Linked DNA regions of Homo sapiens: all the other regions are linked to region 1. The links come from fine-mapping of genetic effects on gene expression. A gene starts in region 1. Each other region holds a variant in brackets. All regions are shown on one strand. Distances are between the middles of the regions. Region 1 holds the start of PLEKHA1 (pleckstrin homology domain containing A1). Region 2 overlaps PLEKHA1 (pleckstrin homology domain containing A1). Region 3 overlaps PLEKHA1 (pleckstrin homology domain containing A1). Region 4 overlaps FGFR2 (fibroblast growth factor receptor 2).

Evidence for each region. PIP is the estimated chance that this variant, and not a neighbour inherited with it, causes the effect.
Region 2: its variant is fine-mapped to the expression of PLEKHA1 in whole blood (INTERVAL, PIP 0.98).
Region 3: its variant is fine-mapped to the expression of PLEKHA1 in whole blood (TOPMed, PIP above 0.99).
Region 4: its variant is fine-mapped to the expression of PLEKHA1 in ovary (GTEx, PIP above 0.99).

The regions. Positions count from the first base shown.
Region 1 is chr10:122,371,255-122,378,798 of GRCh38, forward strand. It overlaps PLEKHA1 (pleckstrin homology domain containing A1), which reads left to right and starts at 3,454. Exons shown (of 12, transcript NM_001001974.4): 1 at 3,454-3,552. RefSeq lists silencers at 3,162-3,311, 3,452-3,561, 3,602-3,671, 3,692-3,851, 3,862-4,061.
Region 2 is chr10:122,401,593-122,409,136 of GRCh38, forward strand. It overlaps PLEKHA1 (pleckstrin homology domain containing A1), which reads left to right. Exons shown (of 12, transcript NM_001001974.4): 5 at 4,984-5,081. Among named protein-coding and RNA genes, the nearest start is that of MIR3941, 12 kb to the right of the region's middle. The variant A/G (reference allele first, on the strand shown) is at 3,546.
Region 3 is chr10:122,424,090-122,431,633 of GRCh38, forward strand. It overlaps PLEKHA1 (pleckstrin homology domain containing A1), which reads left to right. Exons shown (of 12, transcript NM_001001974.4): 9 at 110-174; 10 at 807-870; 11 at 2,853-2,942; 12 at 5,535-7,544. The coding sequence ends at 5,849. Among named protein-coding and RNA genes, the nearest start is that of MIR3941, 11 kb to the left of the region's middle. The variant TACTTTG/T (reference allele first, on the strand shown) is at 3,645.
Region 4 is chr10:121,483,769-121,491,312 of GRCh38, forward strand. It overlaps FGFR2 (fibroblast growth factor receptor 2), which reads right to left. Exons shown (of 18, transcript NM_000141.5): 14 at 4,223-4,345; 15 at 3,586-3,656; 16 at 1,627-1,764; 17 at 1-35. Among named protein-coding and RNA genes, the nearest start is that of FGFR2, 110 kb to the right of the region's middle. RefSeq lists an enhancer at 1,301-1,834. The variant T/A (reference allele first, on the strand shown) is at 3,366.

The DNA.
Region 1 (7,544 bases):
AAATCCCTGGCCACGTGGAGGTTACAGTTTAGAGGGATATGCAGAAAAAAAAATATATATGCACATATATAATATGTACAAAAGTGACCATTGCTAAGGGGAAAAAGATAATGCAGGAAATGCTGCAGACATCAAATATTAGAGAGGTGACTAGCATTCAGGAGCTTTCTGCGTGCCTCTGTACGCTGCTTTTTGTGTTGTCAGAGGGGCTGACGTCTGTCTGGAAGCCCCAGAGCCCAGCACTAAGCATATGGAAGGGGCCCAAGAGCTATTTTTGAATGAAACATCAACGTACTTCACACGTGCAAAGCATGATGATAATGATGACAGTGATACTTTAAAGGTAAACTGCAGGCTGGGGCAGTGGCTCACACCTGTAATCCCAGAACTTTGGGAGGCTGAGGAGGGGGGTAGATCACTTGAGGTCAGGAGTTCGAGATCAGCCTGACCAACATGGAGAAACCCTGACTCTACTAAAAATACAAAAATTAGCCTGTCATGGTGGCAGGCACCTGTAATCCCAGCTACTTGGGAGGCTGAGGCAGGAGAATCACTTGAATTCAGAGGCAGCGGTTGCAGTGAGCTGGGATTGTGCCACCACACTCCAGCCTGGGCGACAGAGCGAGACTCTGTCCCTTCCGGCAGAAAAAAAAAAAAAAGTAAACAGCTAAACTATAGATCCTTGAATTCAGACTCCTCCTTTTTCTTCAGATGAAAAGTAGCCATGGAATATTCCAGCATTCCTCAGTGCCTTCAGTGAGTCCTGAGTGTTCTTGGTTTGCTCCCAGACTGTAATTTCCCTGTACTATTTTTTTTTTAAATAGCACTGAAAGCACTGTTATGTAATAAACCTCTGCATCCAAAAAAAAAGAGGCTGGAAGAAAAGCAGAGAGCTTTTTTTTTTTGTCTCTGTATTTATTGGCTGATCGGGAGCTATGAAGTTCTGGTTATACTGCAACCTCAAAGCAGTCCTGGGATTATCTTGTTGTGTGTCCTTGGGCAAACTGAGTTACTTTTCTGGCTTTCTTTACTGTATGTAAATATGGCTCTCAATGATAAACAGTTTTGGGGACTTGTTATGCAAAAAGAACAAAGGAGCAATTTTTTTTTCTTGAGTCCCGTTCTGTCCCCCAGGCTGGAGTAGAGTGGCACGATCTCAGCTCACTGCAACCTCCATCACGTGGGTTCAGTTGATTCTCCTGCCTCAGCCTCCCGAGTAGCTGGGACTACAGGTGCCCACCACCATGCCTGGCTAAGTAGAGGGGGTTTCACCATGTTGGCCAGGCTGGTCTCAAACTCCTGACCTCAAGTGATCCGCCCACCTTGGCCTCCCAAAGTGCTGGGATTACAAGCAGGAGCCATCACATTGGCCAAAGGAACAATTTCAAACCACTCATCAATGATGTCAAACAACATTTAGGAGAGAGATCCGGCGGGTCCAGCCTGGAGAGGGTGAGAGGCTCTTGGCCTAAGTGTTCTATTCTCAGGACCAGTATTTTCAGATCAAATAAAAGATGTGAATTTGACTTTGAATTTCAAATAAACAAATTTCCCATCTGGAATCTTCTAGGATTCTAGCACTGACAAGCTAGAGACTCCTTCCAGACCTTCTAGCCAGGGAAGGCAAACTCAAATGCCTACAGGGATAAGACAGGTGACACCTAGATTTTTATTTTTAAATGTTAACCACACATTCAGTTAAATCAACAAAAACCCACTGTGTGGACCAAAGGAAACAATCTGCTCTGGCTACTTTATAAACTATAGTGAGGCCAAACCCTTTCAACCATTATACAGATGAGGACCCCAAAAGGGACAGATGTCAGCAAGGCTGCATAGCTAAGGTTTCTCAAAAGATAACCAAAATATCACGTTGGATGAAAGGCAATTGAAAATGCTAAGTCTCAAAGAGGCAGTCAGAGAGCCGTTCTATGCAGTTTGCAAGATGTTTTCACCTCCATCAATTTATCAGACTCTGAGAACATTCTGCAAGGCAGGCAGGGTGGATGACACTCATTTACAGTCGAGGTCACTGAGGGTCAGAAGGGCAAAGTGTCACTCTCTGCATAAAGTCACATAGGTAAGTCTACACAGGAAAATCTAGGGCTGTTCTTCACTACACCTCTGATTCAGATAACAGGTAGGCTTCCTCTAAGATTTTAATAAAGACAAACTCAAAATCCTGTATGATGCCCCATGAAGAGAAACAAGTCAGGAGGCCAGGCTGAGCCCCCAGACTTCTAACCCAGTTCGCAAATAAAGAAAGTGGCAAAGTAGATAGATTCCAGCCTGTCACCAGGGTTGTGTCTTCTGTCCTAGCAGCTGTACAGCTTGTCTTACCACTGGACATTTGTTTCATGTACATTTTCACATAGGAAGGATATTCTAAAAGATGTTGATAAAGATTTTTTAAAGGGTTTGAAGGGGATAGGATGTGATCTAAGGTTGTGCAAGGAGAGGAAAGGAAGAAGCACACAAAAAGAACAAATATTTATTAAGAGCCTAGAGTGGCATGCGCTGTGAAAGGCGTGGCATGTAATTCTTTCCCAGTTCTTTGCCTGTCTGAATATTTCTCATTCTTCAGGTTTCAGCTCAGATATCACATCCTCAGAGAACTTGCCTTGCCACTCTCTCTGAAGAGCCTCCCCCCGTCCCCGCCACCGCTACTGTCTCTTGAACTTTCTCAGTCTGGCCATTCTATTAAAATCTGGAACGATTTTGCTAGTTTGCGGACGAGTTTCCCCCAAGCTGCAGGCTCCATAAGGGCAGTGACAGTGTCTCTTTCTCAGATGAATGCCGGGTTGCCTATCGCGTACTTGGCACACAGTTAAGTGCTCGAGAAATTGCTAAACACTCAACGAATATTTACCAGAATACATATTTATGCTCCACCGTTGCTGAAAGAATTTCGACTAACCCTTCTTTAAGTCTCTCTTACCCTCCTGTACTATTAACACCATTGTAAGTAGGCAGTGGAGCTACATTTGCAGGGAGAGAGAAGAGCGAAAAATTGGCGCGCAGAGCTGTAAAGCGTTTTTCTCCAGGTCACACCGCAGCCTGTAAATTTGTGACACTTGGACCGATTATGGGACAGCTTGCAAACAAATTATCTGCAAACTAACGAAGCCTATTTTTAAAGATCCCTGTTCCTCGCAGCTCTAGGCGATGACATCAGAGAACCCGGAGTTCTACCTCCGAGCCAAGCCCAGTGGTGGTCAAAAACTACGAATACCAGGAAGCACCGCGGCGCGGCGGCCCAGAGCTCCGCGCGCAGGCCTCCCCGGCGCGCCGAGGCCGCCGCCGCTGGAACCAGGAAGACGCCAGAAACTCGGCCCGCCACGCCGCAGGGACCCGCGCGGGGCCTGCCGGGACTCGTAGTCTCTGCGGGCTGGGAGCGCCCGCTCCGGAATCTCAGCCGCCGTCTGAGGGCTGAGGCAGCGTGGGGACGCGTGCGCAGTGCGCGGGCTGGCCGTCGCGGACGCCGCTCCGGGCAGCCGAGCCTCTGTGGGAGCCGGGGCCGCGGCGGCGCGGGTGCTCCGGGCCGAGGCCGCGGTAAAGTTTAGCTTGAAGAACGCGGCCGCGCTGGAGCAGGGGTGGTGGACGGGGCCAGGCGCGAGGTGGCGGCGGCTGCGGGGCTGCCGGGCTGCTGGAGCGCGGTTCCCGCTGTGGCGAGCGGGGAGGCGTCCGCAGAGGGGCGGTGGGTGCTGGTGAGTGCGGAGCCGGCGCCCCCTCTGCGCACGTCCGCGCCACGCGCCACAGCACCTGGAGGCCGCCGGGCCGGCTCACCTGCCCTGGCTTGGGGCAGCGGGAGGGGGCGGCGTCTTCTTCCCGTGGGTCCCCGATTGTTTTCCCGACGTCAGCCCTCAGCGGCGCCCGGCGGGGGAGGGCGGGAGGCCCGCGGCGGTCGCGGGGCCGACGAGCTCCTCGGCGTCTCCGCCCCCCGAGAAATCCCGCTCGGGGCGCGGTGCGCGCAGCTGCCCGGGGATTCCCGGTGGCGCCGGTCGGAGCGCCTCCCTCCAGGGCTGTGCCCGCGGGGCGCGCGTCCCCGGGCATCCTTTCCTGGTGTTTAATGCATTTTGGCTTCAGGACTTGCCGAGGCCGAAGCCGGCTCCGCCCTGGGCCCTGAAGTCGGGCGGTGTCCGCGATTTACCTCCGCACCTTCGGGGCAGGTGGCCAGAGGCAGCGTTGAAAGCGACTTGCCCAAGGTCACGCAGGTGGCACCGGGGAGGCGACCAGACCCAGGTCTTTCGACGCCGAGGCCAGCTGCCAACCGCAGAGCTTTGGGGCCGTCTTGAGTGGTTTGTGGTTTGTTTCAGATGCTTTCTATTGACCTCCTGGAAAGAGGGGAAAGTGTGTCATAATGAAAGCGGTCCTGTTGCTTATAGTGTTTACCGCCTTTGGTAGAATTCTGGTGAGGCTGTGCCCCCGCGCAGAGCATCTACCGTGGTCTGGGCGTATAAATAATGAAACTCCTTTGCTCTCTGGGGGCAGTACAAGAAGAGGTTCAAGGAACAAATAAATATCCAGGCAGTTTCTGCGTTTTCCTCGTCTGTTTGTTTCACCTTCCAATTCTGCAGTACTGGTTTTCTTATTTTACAATTGATCGTTGTTTTAATAAGATTTTCTTTGTTTTAATGAAGTCATTGCCCCTTGTGAGTTAGTTTTCTAAATAGAAAATCTTATTTCCTGTGTGTTTAATGACTGGAACAAATAGTGCACTATGAGGTTTACACCATTGTCTTTCATCTTAGAACTCCTGATCAATCTGCTTTATTTTCCCAAGTACTCAGCTTGCATACTTTCTATGTTAATTTGATGCCACTGAAACCATTTACAGCAAAGTTTGGGTAAGAGTTATGTGATTGTTTTGTGAAACTGTGTTTTTCTTCACAATCTGAAGAACTTGAAGACCCGTTATATTAAAATAATAAGATTTATTCTGATCAAAATACCTGTTTACTTTTCATGCTCTTAATTTTTCCTGTTGACACACTTGTGGCAAAAGAAATATTTCCCCTAGTGGAGTTAAAGTATTTTTTATCTTGGCCAATTTTCCCAAGGAAAATTGCATTTTAGAGTACTGATACATTTAAAAAAGAGTATTTAAGTTTGACAGAATTTGAATTAATAAAGTAGTTAATTTATTTTATACTGCCGTAAACCTTACACTGTATCTACTGACAGTTTTCTCTTGTAGCGTATACCTGTATCAAGATATATGGCTGTGAATTTAGTGACATTAAGAAGATATATATATATATATATATATATATATATATAATATAAATATATGTGTATACACACCGCGCGGGCGCGCGCAGAGCTTCCAATCTTTATCTTGTTAATTAGTATTTTCATTGTCGCTTTGGGAGGGGGGAAAGTAGCAGGTTTGTATCTTTTTTTCTCCCCAGTTTTAGCAGTGTAACAAAATAGGAAAGATGGTGTGTAAAATTGAGTTTGTCATAGACTAGGAGAGACAGTGAAACAGGATAAGTATACAATTGTGAGGAAACTGCCATGAGTTCATAAGCCGGAAGGACCTTTTTAGAAGTGTTTAAGGATGTTAAGAATAGCATTGGATTCTTTTCTTTAAAAGTCATTCAAGTATCGTTTGCTAACATATAGGATATGACAATATTGACCACTCCTAGGAAGATACTTGGGAAAGGTGGAAACATTTTACATTTTTATGGGGACTTCCCCCCACAAAAAACATTTAATGGAGATTTAAACAAAGTGGCTTTTTGACTTAAGCCTGGAAGTTCTTTATTATTATTAGTCATGCTGCAAATCCCGAAGTTATTTTAATTGTGTGATAATTTGTAACCCAGAATGAAATCTAATAAATAGTTTATTAATATAATTTAAGTCATACTTTGACATTGACATATTGCTTGATGTCAAGTCATTATTGTTTAAATAACTTATTTGAGAATGGGGAAGATAGTTTTCTGAATATAGTGTAGTAATTATTTGTGACAATAGTAACATTGCTTTTATTAGAAAATTTTGGGTTGATATAACTAACTGCCTTAAAGTATTTCCTATTTGATTCCAACTGTGAGCTGAGGTAATATGCAAATAATTACTTTTCTCATGCTGGAGCAGTTTACTTTTGTTAATATTAAAATTTAAATTTCAAGATTAAAAAATCTTGTTTTAGATCTGCAATGATACAATAAAATGACTTCAATAGGAGTTAAATATTAAGATTTGGTTTTAGGTTTTTTGACCATTTGTGAGTACACATCCAGCATTTAAGAATTTATTGACATGGTGTCTGAAAGGAATGCTTTCAGAAAGGGCAGAAAACTTGGTAGCTTTAGATGATTGTTTATAATGCTTAATTATTTTTAGAAACATAAAAATATGGGATGTTTTTATGTAAACATAAAGCATCCTGTTATTTGTTATAGCACTAGAACTCTCTTACACTTACTGAGCAATATTAAACCATTTGACCCTAAGTAACTTTTTTTCTTGTGGGTACTGTCTAATAAGGGATATGTGAGTTTGTGATTCCTAGAAGATGCTTAAGCAAACATATGTTTGCTATTTATTTTAGTAAGCCTTTTAATTAGTTGAATTGATAATATTCAGGAAGATAGGGTTTTTGGGATTTTATAAGCTTTCTTTGAACTGGAATTTCTGTTGGATATAAAAGAAAATTAGTCATTTAAGATTTTTTTAAGTTAAATAAGTTTTAGAGCAAAATATTGTTTCCTACATGGAACTCTTACCAGGCTTGTCAGTCTGATAGCTTTATTCTCCAGAAAGTTGTGGTTTTTAGCCCTTTAGGCAGCCTAGCCTTTTATGGTTTAACCATTGAACTCTAGATTCTGGATTGAATTTAACCTCTTGAAGGAAAAGACGATCACAGGCACTAGAATTGGAAGTGATGTCAGAGGGCTTCTAATGTAGCATCTTACCCGGTACAGTAAATCCCTCCTGAGAATTTCCATGTCAGGTGTTCCCTCCCATTATTAAGGATGAGAATGCTATTGCATATGTCATCAGGTTATTCAGCAGTCCAAGCTTACTGAGAACAAACACAAGAGTTTTAATGAGTTTTAATTTTCACTATTCACTGCCTTTAACTGTATTTTGTAGGCTCTTTCCCACCCCCCTGTCCCCCACCCCCCATAACATCATGGGTAAATGATAGCTTTTCTGTCATTTACAGTTATCAAAAAGCTCTAGGCTGGGCTCAGTGGCTCATGCCTGTAATCCCAGCACTTCAGAAAGCCGAGGTGGGAGGATAGCTTGAGCCCAGGAGTTTGAGACCAGCCTGGGCAACATGACGAAACCTTGTCTCTACAGAAAATAGAAAAATCAGCCGGGCGTGGTGGCATGTGCCTGTAGTCCCAGCTAGTTGGGAGGCTGTTGTAGGAGGATCCCTTGAGCCTGGGAGGCAGAGGTTCCAGTGAACAGAGACTGTGCTGTGGCACTCCAGCCTGGGTGACAGGAGAGTGAGACCCTGTCTCCAAAAAAAAAAAAAAAACAGAAAAACAAAAACAAAAAATTGCAGTCTATTCCAGTTTGAA
Region 2 (7,544 bases), 30 kb after region 1:
GTTGAAATGGTGGGGAACTTCCAAATGGAAATGTTCTGTTGACAGTAATCGAGGACTGGATGGAGCTTTAGGGTCAAGAATGGAGAAATTCGGAGTCTGTTGAAAAGTGGGTGGTAGTCGAAGCTAGGAGAATTGATACCCTCTCAGAGAGTATGTTAGTGGACATGAGTGACTGAAGGAACGAATATTTGGAGTGGTCAACTAACATCAAAAGAGACTTTCACATTAAAGTGAGAGATACTTTTGGGAGTAGAATTGAAGTTCTTTGCTCTCTTTTGCTTGAAAAGGGCAGATTTCTTTAGGCAGTAGTTAGGAATAGCATCTTGATATGAGCAAGATGAAACGTGGCTGTCAAGGGAATCCTCTAAAATGCTTTTATCTCACTATGAAGCTATTTTTAAAAGTTACATGTTTATTACTAATTATAATTTTGGTTACGAAACAGGAAAATGCCTCAGAGCCTTGTAATTGAATGGGTATTGCAAGTCAAATAACTGAGAACTTTGTATTTTAGAATGTATAATGCACATACTTTTGACAACCCTTTTTTTTCTAAAATCTCAAACTTACAGGAATAGTAACATACAGTAATAGACTTGACATTCATAGTTATTGGAGTATTTAGAATGGGTGATTTTAGTTGGAATCAAAAACTAAGATTAGTCGTTCATTGGTCAGGCAATAGTTTATTAGTCCTCTACTGTTAGTGGGAGTAAAGATTCATGAAATGCTTACCTTCAGAGAGAGAAGCACTGACTTCTAAAATAGAACCACAACTTTCATTCAAAGTGGCAACATATCTTCTCTCAGATTGTCCCAAACCAGTGAGAACAAGAAACGTGCAAGCCATTTTTGATGGAGGGAGCAGAGTATCTGTAACCCTCAGTGTATAAAGTTGGAAAGTAGATAGAGGAATGGTAGATAATTTAGCAGAGTGGAGGAAGAGGCCAATGAAAAGCTAACCATTTAAGTGTTCTGCCCCCACCCCAACTCTAGATAGGCTTAGGTATAGGAGATACATTTTCTGGGGAAGCAACAGTGAGGAAGGACCAAAAACAGGGACTTTGTTTGCATATCTGTATCAGAAACAACCTCTGTTCCCTACCTCCAATCGGGCAGACACCCTTCTTCTGTCCCAGCAGGTAATGGGATGTGTGGTGTCTCCAGAAATAGAATCAGTGAGGCTGTATATTTAGGGGCACTAGTCCCAGAGAACGAAAGGAATGAGGCACGAAACTGAAAATAGGAAGATATCTTAAATGAAAGTCTGCACAATCAGTGCAACCCCAGCCCCAGAGCACTGGGCAGCCAGGTTTAGGTGAGTAAGATCTGACTACCCTAGAGAAAAGATCCATAGATACTGACTGACATCTGGGCATTTCTACTAGAAGAGCTTGCCATAGTTGACTAGTAAGGTCCACAATCAACAGCCCTACGACAATGCAAGAGAGCTTTTCATCAGTCTTTTTAGCACTTTCTTTTAAAATATGAATAGACAGCCCAGGATTACTGAACATTTGATGAGAGCGGATTATCAAACAGGAGAAGGAACATGAGACAATGCAAAACTCATTTTGCATTTCTTTGAAAAAGTCAAAGAAATCTGAAAGTACAACAAAGGTAAAGATAGATAATGGAAAAGAGATAAAAACCATCAAGGAAGTCCAACATCTGATAGAGACTGAGAGGACAGAGGAAAGTACAGAATAGAGAAAACAGAGTGGGGAAAATTGACAAAGAATATGATAAAATACCTTAGAACCTCTTGATCCAAAACCGTATATTCATAACCAGTTGATCTCAGGTTGTGAGATGATTTTTGTTTGCAGTTAAGCTAATGTTTATGCTTCAAGTTTTATCCATTTTATGTATTCATTCTAATCATAAAGATTTGAAGTTAAATACTCAAGTGGAAAAGATAGGAAGGATACAAGCTTCTAGGGATGCATGTATTATTCACAATGAAACCCTTGCTTTAGGGTTTTTATGGCAACTTAGCAGTGTCAGAGTTTTTTTTTTTTTATTGTTCAAAGATTTTATTTCTTTCCCTTTCTCCCCTCACCACCAATATTGCTAATACACCACATTTCAGTAACTTGCTTTCCCCTTTTTTTTTCTTTTGAGATGGAGCCTCACTCCCCCAGGCCGGAATGCAATGGTGTAATCTTGGCTCACTGCAACCTCCACCTCCTGGGTTCAAGCGATTCTCCTGCCTTAGCCGCCCAAGTAGCTGGGATTACAGGTGCCCACCACCACGCCTGGCTAATTTTTGTATTTTGAGTAGAGACAGGGTTTCACCATGTTGGCCAGGCTTGTCTCGAACCCCTGACCTCAAGTGACTGGCCTGCCTTGGCCTCCCAAAATGCTGGGATTACAGGCGTGAGCCACTGTGCCCTGCTTTACATTTTTTATAGTGCTTCCTTACTCCTTAGAAATCTCCAGATGATGGCAGTGAAGAATATTCTATACCAAGCACTGTGTTAGTTTCTTTACATATATGATCGTCACCTCTTAAGGAGGTGGAATGAGTGACATTCCCATTTCACAGATGAGGAGTATCGGGCTCAGAGAAATTAAATAATGTTTAAAAGATGATATTGCTTGTAAGTGCATAAGCTAGTCAGGTTGGATTGATTCCAGACTGATTTTTTTTTTCTAGATCATACCTATATATCTACGTCTTGCCATGAAGTAATTCTTAAAGTACATGAGATTTTATTCAGATTGCAAGGTATACTAGGGGTCTTTTTTAGATATATATTTGCATCTCTTCCTTCCCTTAGAAAAGATCCTTATATATTTATTCAAAAGTATATGTATTAAGCATTTACTGTGTACCAAGTGTAGTATATTAGTAAGTGCATAGATTTTTAAATTCTTCAGATATTCTGGGCAGATGCCCAAAATAACATTGAGGGGAAGAAGCCATTATGAATGAGGAGAGCTCTGCTTCAGCCTAAGCTGAAAAAAGATTATAAAAGGAAGCCTTACCGATGGCTAGAAATTAAAAACAAGTTATTTATTGATAGATATAGCATCCTAGTGAATTATGGATTTATCTTAATACATATTTATGGCAGTTATAACTTTTCCAGTCTCTAGAAAGATGTACAAGAACAGATTTCCAGTGTGTTAAATTTCTTTTAAGGTTATAGACTGGTTGTTTTGTAGCACTTTACAAGATAGGCTTTGACTTCCTTTCTGAGACCTTCATCTCAATTCAAGGAAGCTGTAGTTTAGAGTGTTTTGGTCTCAGTCCCAATTTCAAAATCTTGTGTGTTTTCCTTGAGAGTTTGCATTTCCCCTTCTCAGTCACATTGAACTGTGTGCTAGTATATCTTTTAAAATTTTGGTGGAGACGTTTGGAAGTTATTTTTATATTTGAACAATTGCAACAGTATAACTATTCAGATACTTAGCTCCTAGAATAATATTTATGCTTTTAAAAATAAATGCAGATGGTGTATAATAAATAGCTTTAATTCAAGAGTGGACTATGATAGTTTATAGACAACTGTATGTGCACATGTGCTTTGCTTGATAAA[A/G]GTACCTAGTCCCTAAAGGGGAATATAGAAACTAAATTGCATAAAAGTTCCAAATGTATTAAGATTCAAAATATAAAGGAAATTCATAAGGTCTAGAAAAATAGATCTTAAGTTAGGGAGATTTTCTAGATGATATGAAATCTGGATGCATTTATAGAAAAGATTCATAGTATATTTCTGTCTGATCAAAAATACTGTTAAAGTAAAACAGACTGGGTAAAGTATTGGTAATAAAGCAGAAAAGATTAATAAAGAAGTTGCTATAAATTAATAATGAATTCAGGAGAAACGTGGGTAAAGAAAGTAAACAAAACTTACAAAATAAATGCAGATGGCCAATAAACTTACAAAACTAATTTATCTCAATAACCAAAGAAATTAAAATTTGAACAAGGTACAATTATTTACCAATTAGGTTGTTAAAGAGTATTAGCCAGGAAAACAGCACACTAGATATTTCAAACCTAAGGGATTTGTTATGGGGAATTGGTTACCCAAATATTGGAAGGCTGAAAGAACATGAAGGGAATGCTGAAGTAACCCAGGAATTAGACGCATGAAGCAACTACTACTCAAGGGCTAGAGAGACAAAAGAGAAGGGGTAGTAGTATTACTATAACCTAGGGCAGTGGAGTAGAAGCCACCATGGAGCTATTAGTATCCAAGGGGACTCTGCAAGGCTGGCATAGGGGGCAGGAAAAGGCTCCTAACAGTAGCTAGTTGTGTGCTGCTGTTGGAGAGAGGTCAACAACAGCAGGAGTCAAGGAGAGTCTCCTCTTTCCTTCTCCCCTCTCCCACCTTACAGTCTCTCATCAGTACCTCCCAGTGGCAGAGAATGGCCTCAGATGGGGTCTAGGAAATATTGTTTGCAGACTACCAGCCCCAGTGCCACAGAGCCTTTGAAAACTAGAAACTAGAGGTATCCACAGGTGCTAACAACCAGTTCTGGTGAGGGGTATTCGATGAAATAAAATGTGTATGTGGTTGGTAGGAATGTGAATGGATTCAACTTTGTGGGAAGATGATTTGGAAATACCTATAAAAAGTTTAAATGTCAATTGTCTTTGACCCAACAAATCTATGTCAAGAAATTTATCACCCAGAAATGCTAGCCAAGTGTGGAGAAATATATGTATATGATGTTTCATTGTGATATTTTATATAATTTCAAAAACCGGAAATAGCCTAAGTGTCTATCATTAGGGGATTGACTAAATGTATTGTGGTGTATCCATTTAATAAACAAAATGGCCATAACAAAATAAGAGTTTTACCTGTGTTATTGTGTGATAAAAGCTGTATTACATGTGGTCTGATATATTTTGTCAAATCCACGAGAGTCACGGTGTTGAACTTAGCAAGGTTTTTCAGCTACTGCAAACATAAATTTAGAGGTAATAAGTACAATATTTGGTGTGTTATTTTTTTCTGTCAACAGTTATGAATGCAGGAATGAGGAAGTACTTCCTACAAGCCAATGATCAGCAGGACCTAGTGGAATGGGTAAATGTGTTAAACAAAGCTATAAAAATTACAGTAAGTATATGTATTTTTTTGAAAAACGTTCGATGTCTGGAATTAATCTTTTCATTTTGAAAATACACCTACCAAATGTTCCCAGCTTACCAACAGGTTTCATACTCAAGCTTTGTTTAAAAGACAGGTGTTCAGAATGTGAATATGTTTTCTTGTACTTGGTGACTGTTGGCACTTTAATCAGCCCATGATTGTCTTTTTAACTTATGCACCTAATAAGGAGATATATTACTGCAGATCTTAATCACTTCTTGCAACGTTTCTAGGAGAAAATGCGCTTAGCACGTAGAGTTCTACCGGGAGGATATATATTTTTCTTCCAATATAGTGTAAGAGATTTCCTGTCACCTACCTGGGGAATAGGCACTTCTCTCTTCTAAGCCATGACTGGGATTGGGGTCAGATAGGGAAAGAGTTGAAAACAGGAGCAGGACAAGGGGAGATGAAGGCTGAAAAATGAGGGTTAGGGATAGGAATAGTGTCTGAAGGGTTGCGGCAGCCAGAGGGTCCTGTCCATGTGACCCTTGAGAAGTTTGTCTCAGGCTCTAAACTTCTTCCCATGTCTGATTTTTTTCCTTGCATTCCAGGGCTTGGTACCCTTGCCCTCCTTTCCCATGCTACAATTTCTTGCTTCTAATGTGTGCTTCTTTTCTTTTTTGGTTTCCTGATGAATATTTATTGATTATTAACACTGTGCCAGATCTTAGACCGAAGGTTTTACTTAAATGAACTGGAAAAGTGAGGCTTAGAAAGATTAATCTACCAGTGTTATAGCTGGTAGATTATGGAGCTGGAAGCCCAGTCCAGTTTTTTGGCCTCTGGAGCCCGAACTCTGAAGTGCAGTGCCTTACTGCTTCCTGAACAAGAACAGCCCTCTCCTTACTCTTTTGTTCCTAAAGCCAACAACAACCTTTACTGAGAGAGTTTGCTAGTGATGATGAGCAGCACGTAGATAGGCTCTATTTTGATTATACCTTGCCTCACCTTTCCCTTTACACTTTTGTAGAGAAATACATAGCAGGCCTGCCTGGAAAATGTTGGGAAGGAGTTCTTGTGTTGTGAGATTTGTGTCAATTGCGTTTTTGTTTTTGTTTTTTTTAAAGAAAGTGCAGTTATATACTGACCCTAAGTGACTTATTCTCAAAGAACATGTGCCCTGAAAGTCAGCATATGTTAGTCACTCATTAGTTTCCATCTAAAATGAATAATTTCCTATTTATATCACAACACAATAAAGAGTCAATATAGTTAAAGCTGTTCTCAGAGTTTAGTCGAATCTTTTTGTTTTGCTCTAGAACAGCTTGTTACCACATGACAGAAAACGCCTACGCACCGCATCTGATCTGTACATGAAGCAGAAGTTATTTTAGGTTTGTGCAGTGTCAGGAAAGCAATTTTTTAACCTGATTCAGACATACATATTCTTAAAAGCTTTTAGCTAATCATTTTAACTCTTCTAATAAATATTCCCTGCTTGAAAAATTTCTTTAGAAAGATAATATCTCGTAACTGTACTAAATTCATGTTTTACCATTTGCAATAACAAGCAGCACTGGTTTCTTAGTGCTTTAAGAGAAAAAGTAGTGAATGGTCTCAGGCTTTTTACCATTTTGGGGGGTCTTGAATTGCTATGTCTGATTTATCAATGGTATGAAACAGTCTTATACAAATGACACTGGTAAGCTTTTCAGCATGAAGGAAAAACAGGTTAGAGATTCTAAATAGAATTCTAAAAAGACTTCTAAGTAGCTTTTGTGGTCTTGCAATTTTATTTTACCTGTTGAAATTTTTATAGTTTTTAAGATAAATTTGTTGGTAAATGATTTTAATGTTTTTATAATTCACATTTGGAAAATATAAATACATAGAAGTTATAGAAATCCTTATTACTTAATAAAGTGGTTATAACTGCATTAAAGTGAGTATAGATTTGATAGTACTTATTAAAAATAAACTTTTGATAGACACACATTTAACTCATAGGATAGCAATGAAATAATTTCCTATGCTTTAATAAGATGCTTTATGTTAATTTTATTCCTTAAAAATATCTTACCAGTTTCATGTGCATTTTATACATTTAAGTGTATTAAAGTGTGGAATCTCCAATTTGTTATATTTTCCTGTGAACATTGCTGATGATTTACATGTAGATTATTTGAAAACTTAAAATGTACATTTTGATGTATGTACTTAATACATAAATCTTTCTATGGGATCACTCTCATTTTGGTCAACTCTAATTTAGTGGTCTGCTAAGTACTGTGTGATATATAAATTTTAAAATTTTGGAAATCCAAAATTAGAGTTTGGAAGTGTGTGGTTTCAAAATAGAGGTGGTTAGAGGGCAATGGGTAAGGGAATGATGATTTTTAAACTATTTCCTAGTTATAATATCTTGCCATTTTAATCCATTATCCTCTAACGCTATAGTCTGTGACTTTCCTTACTTGAGTCTAGGTG
Region 3 (7,544 bases), 53 kb after region 1:
AAAGAAGTGTGATTTTCACATGGGTCTTCAAATAAGACAGCTAACCTTTGAAAGGATTTTAAGAATAAACATCATGTAACTGTTTTTTTTTTTTTTTTTTTTTTGCCAGGAAAAGGAACCTCTTCGTGTAATACCACTTAAAGAGGTTCATAAAGTCCAGGAATGTAAGCAAAGGTAAGGAACCGCTCTGACTTGATGCCTGGCACAAGTTATAAACACAGAATAGTGCCTTAGTTTGAGTAATGTACTTACAGATTACATTTTTCCATATTAATTGTAGTTATTTTTAACTCTTTATAGTTGAGATACACTAGAATTTTCAAAACCCTCAGAGTAAAGTATTGAACTACTTTGTTCATTTGAAAACTAAAAATTAGGAAAGAATCGTTTATTTGTTTCTTTGAAAACTAAAAATACAGAAACAGCTTACTAATGGAAAGGAATAAATTTAATGTGAACAACTTATGGTTAGGCCATCAGATTTGACAAATTGATGTATTAAGTGTTTAAAAGATGCAGTAGAATAGAGCTTCACAAGAAAATGTGTTAGCTGTGACAGTGTTTCACCAAACTGATTACTAAAAACTCTGAACTTTAAAGTTGCTTTGTGAACTTTTTCTAAAAGTGAAACTACATGAAATATGTAAAATCTTACATTAAAATAAATGGGAAAAGATAATTTGGGTTTGCTAAATCAGTGCTTTACCTCATTTATTTATTGACGCATACTGGGTACTGGGTAAACAAATGAAAGAGAAACTCAAACAACTGCTATTTAAGTATAATTGGATTTTTTTTTCATACAGCGACATAATGATGAGGGACAACCTCTTTGAAATTGTAACAACGTCTCGAACTTTCTATGTGCAGGTAAGATGCTTATTTGGCAATTAATAGATCCTCCTAAAAAGAAATTAATAATATTAGAGGTGAAATAAACATAAACAAGCTTGTTGCACTTGAGGTTAAAAAAATATGACAACTGTAATTCACCAGCTTAATAAAAGGGTACTGTATATAGAGTTATTGGTGGGGTTATATGTTCAGGAAGTGGGAGTATTTGTTATGAATTAGTGAACTAGAACTAAGTATTTAGAGAAAGGGAAATGCTTTTAATTTAGATGTTAAGTGTGTACTTTCAAGTTGGATTATTTTTGCACATGTTTTAGAATTTTGATTTTTCTATTATATCATTTTTTGGTAACCTTATTAAAAAAACCCATAGTAAAAGTAGACAGTAGATTTATATAGTTTCACTAATAGTAGGCATCCTGTATTTAAGTTTAAATTGTACTTTTTGCATACTTCATTGAATTATTTAAATGGAAAATTTTAAAAAAAGATTTGGGCCGGCTGTGTTGGCTCACACCTGTAATCCCAGCACTTTGGGAGGCCAAGGCAGGCACATCGCTTGAGTCCAGGAGTTCGAGACCAGCCTGGGCAACATGGCAAAACCCCATCTCTACTAAAAATACAAACATTAGCCAGCCGTGGTGGTGTGCAGGCTTGTAATCCTAGCAACTTGGGAGGCTGAGGCACGAGAATCGCTTGAACCCAGGAGGTGGTTACAGTGAGCTGAGATCGTGTTACTGCACTCCAGCCTGGGTGACAGAGACCCTGTCTCAAAAAAAAAAAAAAAAAAAAAATCAAAAAGGGATGATTTGTTTTTGTTTTATTGAAGTTAAATATGCTTATTCCAGAAAACTTGGAAAATATAGAAAGATTTCAGAAAAATGTGGCTTATAAAACATTCAGTCCCACATTGAGGCAACCATTCTTATGATTTTGCTCCCTTTCTTAAGGTATATATTTTTATAATAGGTGGGGTCATACTAAATATAGTGTTATATCCTATTTGTTTCATATATTGTTATTTTTTTCCCATGTCATTAAAAATTATCTGAAAACCTTTTAGAACTGCACCATACTCCATTGATGTTCCACCAGTAAATTGTGTCTGTATTACTCTGTTGCTGTATTGTGTCTGTGTTACTCTGTTCATGTGCATAGTTTTTGTACATTTACTGTAATAAAATGATGAAAAACATCTTTGTGCATTACTTTGCCTGATTTCTTTAGGGTAAGTTTCTAGATCGAGATTAACTATCAGAGCATGACCCTTTCTATTTTGTCAAATTGATTTCTAGAATTGTATTTCCATTAGTAATGAATGAAGTATACTCTACCTTTGGCTACTTGTATTTTTTTTTTTTTTTAGTCTTTGTTAATATTACTTATTCAAAAATATTCTGCATTTTAAACTTTTTCATATTTCTAGATTCTAGAAGTGTAAGGGATTCTAGAATCTAGAAACAAGAGGCAGTATCTCTGCACCCCGATTGGGGCCTTATTTAATTGGATTAATTTCATAGTAAGGTTTAAAATTCACATTGAAAGCCAGACGTATCTGTCAATACTTATTGTAGGATTTAGGGTACTACTAGAAATTATTTCCAGAAAAATATGTAAAAGAATGTCAGAATTTTTAAAAATTACACAACTACATAAATATTCTTGTAGCAGATTCAGACAGTGTAGCAGTAGGTAGAGTGAAATAAGAAGGGTTTTTCTTGGACTTCCTCCTCTCCTTGTTTTCTGTCTGGAGGTATTCATTATTGACGCCTGTTGATGGGTCTGATCTTGACATTGAAGTGCTCAATTTATGTCTCTGTGTAGTTAAGACCTAGCAAAACCTGGCTTTAAAAAAATGATTTCTAAATTTTTTGGAAACAGTTGCCTTAGAGTGATTTTGTTGATGACAGTATTTTAAGTTATCAAAATAAATACATTGGCTGTATAGAAGTAGGTGATTTTGAGAAAAAATTGTTTGAATGAGTTCTTTTTTCCTTTAGGCTGATAGCCCTGAAGAGATGCACAGTTGGATTAAAGCAGTCTCTGGCGCCATTGTAGCACAGCGGGGTCCCGGCAGATCTGCGTCTTCTGTAGGTTTCCTGCTCTCTGGGGTGATACTCCCTTGCGTCTCCCCCATCCTATCAAATTTCCTCTCTCCCAATCCATCCGGTTTCTTTCTTTCTTGAGATTTATTTGCATGTTGACTTTTATACCAATTGGACTTGCAAAAAATAATGCATTTCTAATTTAATGCTTCCTTGTAGTATTATGTATACATAACTTTCTGTGCATTGTATTGTGTTAAATGCACAAGTAGGGCAACTAAAGAATAAACATTTCCTTGCTTTGTTTTAGGAGTTCTTACTTGTCAGTAGCTCTAGATTTGGCATAATCTGACAGATTCTTAGTATGGTGTGTGATCAGGATCATGTAAGACTTTTAGTTGTAGCGTTACACAGTTTTGTGAACGTCTCAATTTCCTCTTTACTTCCTCTGATTTCAGTTCAGGTTTTTTGGTTTTGTTTTGTTTTTTACCTTTGGCTTAACCATGCCATCAGATCACTGAGCAGCTGGGGCCTTAAATACAGTTCAGTGCTCCCAGTGTTTCCATTTCATGTTTTAATTCTCATTTTAAAACCTGCTTTAACAGCCTGCTTCTGAAAACTACCATAATTATCTTTGTGGTAGTATGATAATAAAATTGAAATACAACTAAACATTCTGCTCAGAAATATTTTTTTAAAAGATTTTTCTTGTGTTCAAGTACATAAGAATTAGATTTGCATTTGGAA[TACTTTG/T]GCCACTGATCTCAGGTCTGAAAATTTAAAGTATCTTAAAATGTAACACTGCCATCTGCGGAAAGTAGTCTCATATGTAGCATGATAGCCTTTATTATCTAGATTTACTATGACATATATGCTAGTTACTTACACTTTTAATATTTTTTTCTGATAGTATTATAATACCGCCTTTTATTAGTTTTCTGGTAGTGATAACTACAGATAAATAAATAGAAATCAATGTTTCTGATTTCTTAGTTGTTAAGTCATTCTCTCTTTATATCCTTTTTGAAATATCTAAGAAGTCACTTTCATAGATGTTCATTTTGTAACTGCCTGTATTTTATGTGACTTTTTCAGCAGTCAAGTATGAGACTCTCTGCAAAAACAGTGTCTGTTGGGAAGAGGAAAAGTTGGAGAAGGATGTTTGTGTTTTGTGCTTTGTGGTGGGGGCAGATTGGACTATCTAGCTATGACTGTCAGCACAACTTTCTCTTTTCCTCCCTCTACCCAGTATAGGTTAACTCTAATCTTAGCTTTGCACTGTGTTCCAGATGCGGCAGGCCAGAAGGCTGTCGAACCCTTGTATACAGAGGTATACATCAAGAGCTGGTGAATGCAGCACGTATGTGGGCTCTCACGCAAACGTGCCTTCTTAGTGGAGGGCCCAGACTTACTACTTACAACTGATCATAGAAAGTTGAGTTAACCAAACTGCCTTTTGCAGTTATCATAACTGATTTTGTCAATACTAACGCAAACTGTTTCACTGTAGTCATCAGGTTGGATATGTGTATTTAAAAATAAAAAATAAAACATACAACTTTACTAACAGAAAGAGACATTAACATATAAAAATTAATATACTCAACTGCTGCAAGAGTTTCAATTTTATATTATGTATTTAAAAATTTTTAAGATACAATACTTACGAAATGCACCATTGTTCTAATAATATATGCAAACTAATGCATGCATATGCATTGGATAAACTGTACATTACTATAGTTTGCATGGCATTTAAAAATCTCTGAAATTTAGCCATCTAATAGGACTCTGTAGTGTTTTGGTAATTTGTAGCACTTTGATTTCAAAGCCACTGGTATCATAAATGAATATAATATACTAGTATATAGCAATGTATTTAGAATGGTCATATTTAAGGATATTTTCAGATTTGATCTAGTTAGAAGCATATTGAAATTAACATTCTCAACTACTAATTATTTCACCACAGTTTAAAATGTGATAAATGTGTACCCTTTGTTACCTTTAAAATATTAAGCCATATGAATATATGACCTATTCAGAACTAAAATTAAGTAAAAAATGAAAAGACTGTGCTATTATTGGTTGCAGTGAAATTCAGGGAAGTAAAAACTAAGTCTTATCAGCAGAATAATGTTTGAAAGATGATTCGTGCTTATTAAAGAAATATGGCCTTTCATTGTTATAGTCTATATTTTAATTTTTTTCATTCTAAAATATGTGGGATAATTCCTAGTGTTGACTGAGAATATACTCTTAAATAAAATGATACAGCTGGGAGGTTCTCTTTTAAACACAGTTCAGTTGCAGCTGGAACACTGTATTTCAGTTTAGGTTGGCTGAATCTTCAAAGTGTCATAGGCTGCCAAATTCAGCTTTGGTGACGGAACTGGTTTCCTAGTGGAAATGGTTTTTGGCTATCATTGCTTTAAACTCACCTCTAAAAACGCGTTGCTTTGGGAAAGAACTTGCACATTTATGCTGCATGGCTTCTGCTGCTGCCTTTGTGTGTGTGTGTGTGTGTGTGTGTGTGTGTGTGTGTTTTATTTGTTTTTCAGAGAATCAAGTCTCACACTGAGTTACTAACCTGGTCATGAGTGACTGACCGTGTCTGACTGCCACTCCTTTTTGCAGGAGCATCCCCCCGGTCCTTCAGAATCCAAACACGCTTTCCGTCCTACCAACGCAGCCACCGCCACCTCACATTCCACAGCCTCTCGCAGCAACTCTTTGGTCTCAACCTTTACCATGGAGAAGCGAGGATTTTACGAGTCTCTTGCCAAGGTCAAGCCAGGGAACTTCAAGGTCCAGACTGTCTCTCCAAGAGAACCAGCTTCCAAAGTGACTGAACAAGCTCTGTTAAGACCTCAAAGTAAAAATGGCCCTCAGGAAAAAGATTGTGACCTAGTAGACTTGGACGATGCGAGCCTTCCGGTCAGTGACGTGTGAGGCAGAAGCGCACGGAGCCTGCCTGCCTCTGCCGTCCTCAGTTTCCTTTCATGAGGCTTCTAGCCAAAGATGATAAAGGGGGAAATGGTTTTTAGTGCGTATATTATACTGCCTCTTAGGTGTACTCTTTATAAGCTGGTAAACCAAGAATCTAGGGAGTGGCCAAACTAAATATAATTTCTTTAAAAAAGAAAGAAAAAGGAAAAATCCAAAATATCTCAGTATCATCTGTCTGAAGCATTGTGTGTTCTCATTCGGGTGGTAACAATGTATGTGTAATATTTTTTTCTTAGTGATTTTGACAGTTTAAATGTTTAACAACTTAAAGCATTAAAAATGCTTATTAATAACTTTGGTCATTTAAAAAATGCTACAATGACTTCCTATTAAAGGTTCAATATTTACACATTCTTATTGGTTGATATTACCACATGAAATATTGCCAGACCAAGATACCTAAACTCATGATGTCTGTGGTGCTGTAAAATTTATACTAAAATGTGGACTATTTTGAAATTATAACCATTTTTGATGCCCTGAATCTTGAGGTGACTTATTTTGCATAGAGGATATGGATAGACCAACAGTAAGGGTTGTGGGTTATACCGGCATAGAGAAAAGAAGAAAACTAGAATTGAAACAACTGTGTCTTAGACATTTGTTTGAAAAAGCTTCATCAGGCCTTGGAGCAGTCACTGCTTTATTCCGCAAAAATTATTTGGTAGGAAATTTTTGGGAGATCTGATTTTCTTATCCAAGTTTTGTAAATAGTTGTTATTTCTATATTTGGATTGGTGAAAGACCTCAAGTTTATATGTAAAGACATAACTGCCCTTAGTCATGAAATTGTTGTGACCTCTACTTTTTGTCACTAATAGCCTACATTCAAGTGCCTGTGTTTTTTCATCTTGTTTAGGAATGTTTTGAGATTAATGTGCTTAAAAGTCCTACGTGACTGATTTTAAACATTGTGATAAAATTAATTTTCAGTAGAATAGTTGAATGTGTTAAGATAGGATTTTATGTTAGAGATACCAGAATGCTGGTATTCTACTACTTGTGCAATATATATGTTTTAAAAAACAAATTTGAGAATACATTTAATCATAGGGATATAGATATAAGCACCTCTCTAAAGAATCTTTAGTTTCCGACGTTGAATTATAGACCAGTTTGAGTAAGTACTGCTTTTTTTTTTTGGAGACGGGCTCTCGCTCTGTTGCTCAGGCTGGAGTGCAGTGGCGTGATCTCAGCTCACTACAGCCTCCACCTCGTGGGTTCAAACAGTTGTGCTGCCTCAGCTTCCCGAGTAGCTAGGATTACAGGTGCATGCCACCACACCTGGCTAATTTTTGTATTTTAGTAGAGATGGGGTTTCACCATGTTGGCCAGGCTCGTCTCGAACTCCTGACTTCAGGTGATCCACCCATCTCAGCCTCCCAAAGTGCTGGGATTACAGGCGTGAGCCACCATGCCCGGCCCATAAGTACCGTTTTTGAGGTTCAGTCTTAAACATTTGCTTTAAGAAAACAGTCTTGAATTTCACATGCTGCTATTTTTATATTTTGCCATTTTACAGTACTGTTTTGTTTTGAATTCATGCATATCATTGAAAATTTCTCGTTTTCATTTTCTTAGATGACTTCTTGTCTGAGACAGAAAAATTTCCTACTACAGCAGTGCAGTCCAGAGGTT
Region 4 (7,544 bases), 890 kb before region 1:
GCACTGCATGCCAACAGTCCCTCATCATCATGTACCTGGGAAAAATGGATTTCCTTGAATTAATTTCATATGCACTGGGTACGTGGTTATAGTCAGTTTTAATAGGCAATATGGGGACGTGGTGTAAATTAGGAAAATGCATCAGAACCTTCCAAGCAACTAGATTAGGGGGTCATGAATCACTTTCCCAAAAGCTTCCCTGCCAGTTCCTCCGAAAGGCACTTTGACTTACAAAAACATGTTAGAAAGGCATCGAAGCCATCAAGAAAGACACAGCTATGTGTTTTCCCTGGTAACCCTGGGCCACAGTGACATCTCACAATGGCGTCACACCCTAAAGATGCTTTGGAGGCTGAAGGAAAATGCGTATTTCCATGGGCTGGTCTCCAGTCTTCCCTCCCCTGACACCCTGCCCAGCACCAAAGCAGCTCCACTATTTATCTGCCCGGTGCTTTGGGTCTTAATGATTCTAGTTGACACAGCTTCCTGAGTTAAAAAAAAATTAAATAAAATTTGAAAACTACAACTTCAAGTTTTTGATGAATTAATCTGCCACCACTGGGCTGCACACTAACTTCCTGATTAACTCTTAGATAGGCTTAGCTTCCCAGGTCTTATCTTGATTTTGGGTTTCGACAGATCCTCTACGTTACAAAAGAAAAAAAACAATAGGAATGACAAAGAGCACAATAAATGCCTTTATATAATATGCTATAAAATGTGGCCATTCATCAGACATCCACGGTACACCGAAAAGCACTCACGGGATTACTGATATAAAATCCCCATGAAATGATACACAATAGACCGCAGTTTCTGGGACAATCACTCTTCTTAGTTAATCCTGGAGGGGTTGAGGCAGGAGGCAGAGAGACTCCTTTCAAAGCACTGATTCTATTGCACCAGGCACACGTCACAAACACAACATAACTCCACTTAAAGTGTGAGGCAGGTTTTGCTACAAACCAGTTCATGGTTTTACAGGCAGATCTGGTACAGTAAGGAGGGCGCCTGGACACATGTTTAATTCTCTGCACTAAAACACAAGTGAGACCTAGGTAACCAAACACGAGTTCCTTCGCTCTGAGGAAATGTGGTTGGCGTCAATCTGTAATGGCAATTTTCAATGGTTCGAGAAGTTCTGGAAACACCGATTCTCTACTGGCCACGATGGGGCCAGGCGGGGGCCAGGCACAACCACCAGGGAAAGGCTGTGTTGGTTCCTTAATCCTACACCCTGCAGGGCGGCCCCGCGGCTTTCTAGCTTGTTTCCTGACCCGTGGGTCTTCCTGTCACTCCACGGGAGACCGCAGAAGGTGCAGCACAGTGGCCCAGGAAGACCACTCCTGCTGGCTCTGCAAAGTCAGGAGCCCTCAGCCAGGCAGCCAGACACCCTCTGATCCAAAGCCCTCTCCATACTCAGAATAATGTTCTTTCTCTCAGACAAGTAATGGTTGTCGGTGTCGCTATGTATCCCAGCTCTGGATTGAGCCCAGAGAGCTTCAGCCATTCTTCTTAGAGCATGTTTAGGAAACCAGGGGCCTTCAAAAACGAGATACATCAGGAGAGGTATTACTGGTGTGGCAAGTCCACTGGGGCACCGGCAGGAAAGACAACAGCCCTTACAGTTCGTTGGTGCAGTTGGCTGGCTTATCCATTCTGTGTCCTTCCTTCAGCAGCTTAAAAAGTTCCTCCACGGGAATCCCTGGGTAGGGCGAGCCCCCTAAAGTGAAGATCTCCCACATTAACACCCCGAAGGACCAGCTGCAACAAAAGGAGAAAGCACGGCATTACTAACCCATCCACGTTGCCAAAACCTAAACACGCCCAGCTGAGACATAAACACCTCCTCACTTCTGAAGTTCAAAGACAAATGGGCCCTCCTGCAGTTCCTCCTATGTGCTCTTTCCTGCCCTGCAAGAGCATCCCCGAATGATGATGACACGGGGATGTGCTGATGGAATTTTCCATCAATAGACAAAAAGGCAAACTGCCATCACTCTGGAATAGAGCTGCTTGTCTTAAATGTGGTGTTAGCAATGCAAGGATCTCAGTTTCTCAGTTTCAAAGCCTTTACGCTCCTTTCCAACTCCTTATGTGCCTGACCCAAGGGTTGTGATCTACCAGGATGGGCAGTTGACAGAATAAGGCCAGCAAGCCAACTCCGCAGGATCACAGCTGCCCTGTGTGGCTGGCGGAACATCTGCTGCACAGAGGCTCTGGAACTTACTAAGATCGCAAAGGCAATCAGCACTGGGCTGGGGTTAGGATGAGGAATCACATGCCCCAGATGAGTTGCACACAACAAAACTGAACACATCTCACAGGCCATAATTTATTTACACTTGACTCTTCAGAGATTTGGACTTCCTGTGCCAAGTTCAGGAGGCTCAATCTCTGGGAGGAGCAAGCTGAGAGAGCCAGGTTTAGCTACATCATGGTCGTTCTGGAAACTCAACCTTCTGTACTCGATGGTGGTGTTTCACTCCGCAGTTTTCTACAGAGCAAAAGCAGCAGCACAGGACAGGCAGAACAGCCTCTGTGCCTCAGTTGCTCACAGCAAAAATGGGATAGTCATGTCTTTTTTTTAGGATTGTTGAGAGGACCAACTATGGTAGCACAGAATTAATGCCTACCCAGAACTCCTCCTGCTCATACAAATAAAAAATAGTTCAAGTGATTTTTTTTTCCCCAGACAGAGTCTCGCTCTGTTGCCAGGCTGGAGTGCAGTGGCACAATCTCAGCTCACTGCAACCTCTGACTCCCAGGTTCAAGCGATTCTCCTGCCTCAGCCTCCCAAGTAGTGGAGATTACAGACACGCATAACTACGCCCAGCTAATTTTTGTAGTTTTAGTAGAGACGGGGTTTCACCATGTTGGCCAGGATGGCCTTGATCTCCTGACCTCGTGATCCACCCGCCTTGCCCTCCCAAAGTGCTGGGATTGATTACAGGTATGAGTCACTGCACACAGCCTTCAACTGAATTTTCAAATCTAAAATATCAGTTGGAGCCTGACCCCACTGGTTTTGTCAGTATATCATAATAGAAATATTCTACTGTGTTTCTAGAATGCTATCAAGGATGCCAAAGCAAGATCAGACCTTTTTGTTGAGGGATAAACATAGAGAGTAGACCCTGTGGAGGTCCCCAGCCTGGACCACATCTCACTCAGCTCCACTCTTTAAGGACAAATCTGGGTTAGAGGGAAATATGACAAACTACTCGTAAGTGGGAAAAGCTCCAGGATTACTCCTTTAATGGAGTGAAGAACATGCCAAGAGCTTGGCGAATTAGATAACCGCTTTGTAGTTGCACATCCATGAATATGTTCAAGGGAAGGACTTCCGCTCTGGCAGGGGGAGG[T/A]CAGCAGTTCCACCTTCTGTGCTCTTTGAAGCCAGGCAGATTAGTAACAGAGCATTGGTTATCAGCCTACCATAAAATCTGTCCTTTCTAAGGCCAGCTCCTGCACCTTCTACGAATGTGTGAAATGCAGCAGCCACTAAAGAAGGAAGAAAGGTGAAGTACGTACAGTATTTTTGCAGCTCAAGCCCAGGAAAAAGCCAGAGAAAAGAGAGTTACTCACACATCACTCTGATGAGTGTATACTCTATCAAACAGGGCTTCTGGAGCCATCCACTTGACTGGAAGCCGCCCCTGCAAATGTAGAGGAAAATGCAAAAACTAAATATATTTAAAAGAATTTATCTTAGCAGGCTCAATAGGGCTATGCCCTGTTTAAGAGCTGATATTCTCGGTTTTTACTAGTCAGTCAATAGAGCAGAAATCAGTCCCAATGAGGACCATGAACAATGTGTGAGATGCACAGGTCTGGGCCGTTAATAAAATGCCATCTCCTTGGATTCTATCCTTTATCTCCCTAGCACACAGATGCTCCTTGACCAGTTATTAGGCAAAAATTAAACCAGTAACTTCCAAGCTGTAGTTTTTGCTATGAAAGTTCTTGATGAGAACCATAAGAAAATCCTAGCGGTTGCTGATTATTCTGTATATAAGTGTTTCACATTTACTAAAATTGACATAATAGAGGCTAAATTTGCATATTGAGAGTTTGTGAATAGTAAGTCAAAAGAACGGGAATCGGGGCAGGGGAATGGGTCCCCAGCCATCCCACCCAGCTCTCAACATTGACGGCCTTTCTTCCTGGAACATTCTGAGCCTCACCCCCGCCCCTGCCCACTGTGTTACTGCCATCGACTTACATTGGTGGTCTTTTTGTAATAGTCTATATTGTTGATATCTCTGGCGAGTCCAAAGTCTGCTATTTTCATCACATTGTTTTCTGTTACCAAAACATTTCTGGCTGCTAAATCTCGATGAATACACTGAAATCAAGAAAGAAGCAAGAGAAATAACTAATTTCAAAACACCGCCAGAACAAAAAGGAAATATGTTCATTTCTTAAAATGCAGATAGAAAATATAGCTGATGTTAAAAACCAGTTGCGGTATACTATAAGAAATACAGTGTGGCCGGGTGCGGTGGCTCATGCCTGTAATACCAGCACTTTGGGAGGTCAAGGTGGGCGGATCACTTGAGGTCAGTAGTTCGAGACCAGCCTGGCCAACACGGCAAAATCCCATCTCTGCTAAAACTACAAAAATTAGCCGAGCGTGGTGGTGTGCACCTGTAGTCCCAGCTACTCAGGAGGCTGAGGCACAAGAATCACTTGAACCTGGGAGACAGAGGTTGCAGTGAGCTGAGATCACGCCATTGCACTCCAGCCTGGGTGACAGAGTGAGACTCTGTCTCAAAAAAAAAAAAAAAAAAAGAAAGAAAAGAAAAGAAAACGCAGTGTGGCTCTAAGATTAAGAAGACAGGTCAACTGGGATCATCGGAGAGCCTGGATCACGACATGTATTTGTTTTGGAATTATAAATAAATAGAATGATCATTTTGAAGAGCGAAGGTAGACTAAATAACCATATTCTCTTCTACCTCCAGTTGTCCAGCCACACCAGTGTCTTTCTTTCAGCTGCTTATAGATCTGTATCTGATCATCCTAAAATCTTTTCTCTCAACACTTGCTCTCCTGCCCTTTAAACCTGAATTTTCAGAAGCGTTGGTTAAAATCCAACATTGTGTCTTCTTCATTCCTGGTCACTTCTCAAACATTCTAATCTGTGTTCCACTCTTGCCTCTCCTGAAGCTTATGAAGAACCTCTGAATTGTTAGACGCAAATGACGTCCTCCAACTCCTCAGTTGTTCCTCCTCTGTGGCTTCAGATGCTATTGATTTCTTGCTTGTTTTTTAAAATGGTCCCTCTGTTTAGGTTTTCTTGTTTTTGTTTTTTTTGTTTTAACATGGAGTCTTGTCCTTGTCGCCCAGGCTGGAGTGCAATGGTGCGATCTTGGCTCACCGCAACCTCCGCCTCCTGGGTTCAAGCGATTCTCCTGCCTCAGCCTCCCGAGTAGCTGAGACTACAGGTGCCTGCCACCACACCCGGCTAATATTTTGTATTTTTAGTAGAGACGGGGTTTCACCATGTCGGTCAGGCTGGTCTCGAACTCCTGACCTCAGGTGAGCCATCCGCCTCGGCCTCCCAAAGTGCTAGGATTACAGGTGTAAGCCACCACACCCAGCCCCTCTGTTTAGTTTTATCCCGTCCCCTTCCCTCAGCTGCCTCTCTGTCTCTCCCTGCCCTCTTAGAATCTCTGGCTGGCTCTTCTCTTTTTCTGTCCCTTCAAATAGAGGAATTGTTCCATTAAGTTTATGTATTTCCATATATCCTCAAGGCATTAATTCTAAACACATACAAAATATGCGCAAGTTCGTATCTCCATCATGACCTCCCTCCTGAGACCCATGTTCTCATTTTCAACTGTCTATGGGACACTTCCCCACTGACATTCCCTTGACGTCTCAAATTCAAGGTTTCAACTCCTCCAATGCTTTGTCTCTCTTAATCGGAGAGCTATACACCGGTATTCTTTACACATTCCTCCCAAGTCCTGTTGATTTCAACTCCAAAATGCCTTCCCATGTGTCCACACCATGCCTTTCCCACTGCTAATGCCTTAGTCCAGGCCATCTTCACTGTCTGCCCCTCCCCCTGAGACTTCCACACTGCCCGTCTAGCGGGTCTCTACGCTTCCAAACTTAGCCCTGTTGTACCTCCTCCATGTCCCATGACTAAGGTTCCTGAAATGACTAGTCATGTCCTTTCTTGGTCTCTACCATGGCCAATGCCCGTCTATCCACGTTCTCAGTCCAGTTTCTCCTAACACCTGGCCTCAGCCTGAATGTGCCACATACACTGATTCTAAACACTGAAATATTAAATACTTGCTGCAGAACAGCTAATTTATTGTCTTGACACTAACTCTTGGGTCTCAGAAAGATCTAGCTATTACGACTTTTCCTTCTTTTTTTTTTTTTTTTTTTTTTTTTTGAGACGGAGTTTCACTCTTGTTTCCCAGGCTAGAGTGCAGTGGCACGATCTTGGCTCAATGCAACCTCTGCCTCCCAGGTTCAAGTGATTCTCCTGCCCTCAGCCTCCCAAGTAGCTGGGATTGCAGGTGCCCACCACCACATCAGGCTAATTTTGTATTTTTGGTAGAGATAGGGTTTCACCATGTTGGTCAGGCTGGTCTCAAACTCCTGACCTCAAGTGATCCACCCGCCTCGGCCTCCCAAAGTACTGGGATTATAGGCGTGAGCCACCACGCCCGGCCTATGATTTTTCCTTTCTACAAATGATACGCTACTGTGAGCTGCTGCATTTTTGTTACACTTTCATATAGCAAGATTTCCACAAGATACAAGGTAATTAGGGTCTCCAATCATCACCTTCTATTTTGGGAAGAGATAAGACACAAAGAAGCAAATATCACCACCGAAGCCTTTTACACTGGTTATTGGCAAAGGTTAACTATCATACGAAGCAGAAAGTCTTATCAGTCCATTCAACAAGGCTGAAATGGGGGCGATCTTAGGCACTCCACGAAATGGACAATTAAAAAAGGGGCAAGCTACGTGATCCCTGAAATATAAATAAGGAATTATTTGATTCCACCCCGACCCCTAGCTATTCCTTGTGTTCACACACTTCTGGGCCTCCCGGGTAGCCTAAGCCCAGAAGCGGGAAAGCAAGAAAGCCACGCAAGCTTGCAATCCCTGGCCAGGTTGGAAGCAGGAAACATGAGAGCTCACAGAAGCTGCCTGGAGATTCGTCTGGGGCTGCAGCCCTGTTCCCAGTTTTGGAGGCCTGTTCAAATTGAACTTCCAAGCCCCGGGCCAAACTCTCCCGGTGGTGTGCTCCTGCCGACACGCGCTCTGTGTGTCTGGCAAGCTGTGTGGTCAGAAGAATGTGCTTCCCACGCACTGGGCTCCAACTATGCATTAGGGCTCAGCTTGCACAGAGACACTGCTGACGGCTCCCTCCACCATCTTCTCAGCGAAAGCCAGAGTCTAGCGTGGCCATCCCTCATCCCAGGGGCTAGGAAACATCAAACCCCAGCCTCTGGGTTGAATAAGAGGAGACTTGGAACCCACACCCGAGAAAAAGAAAGTAATCAAAGGCA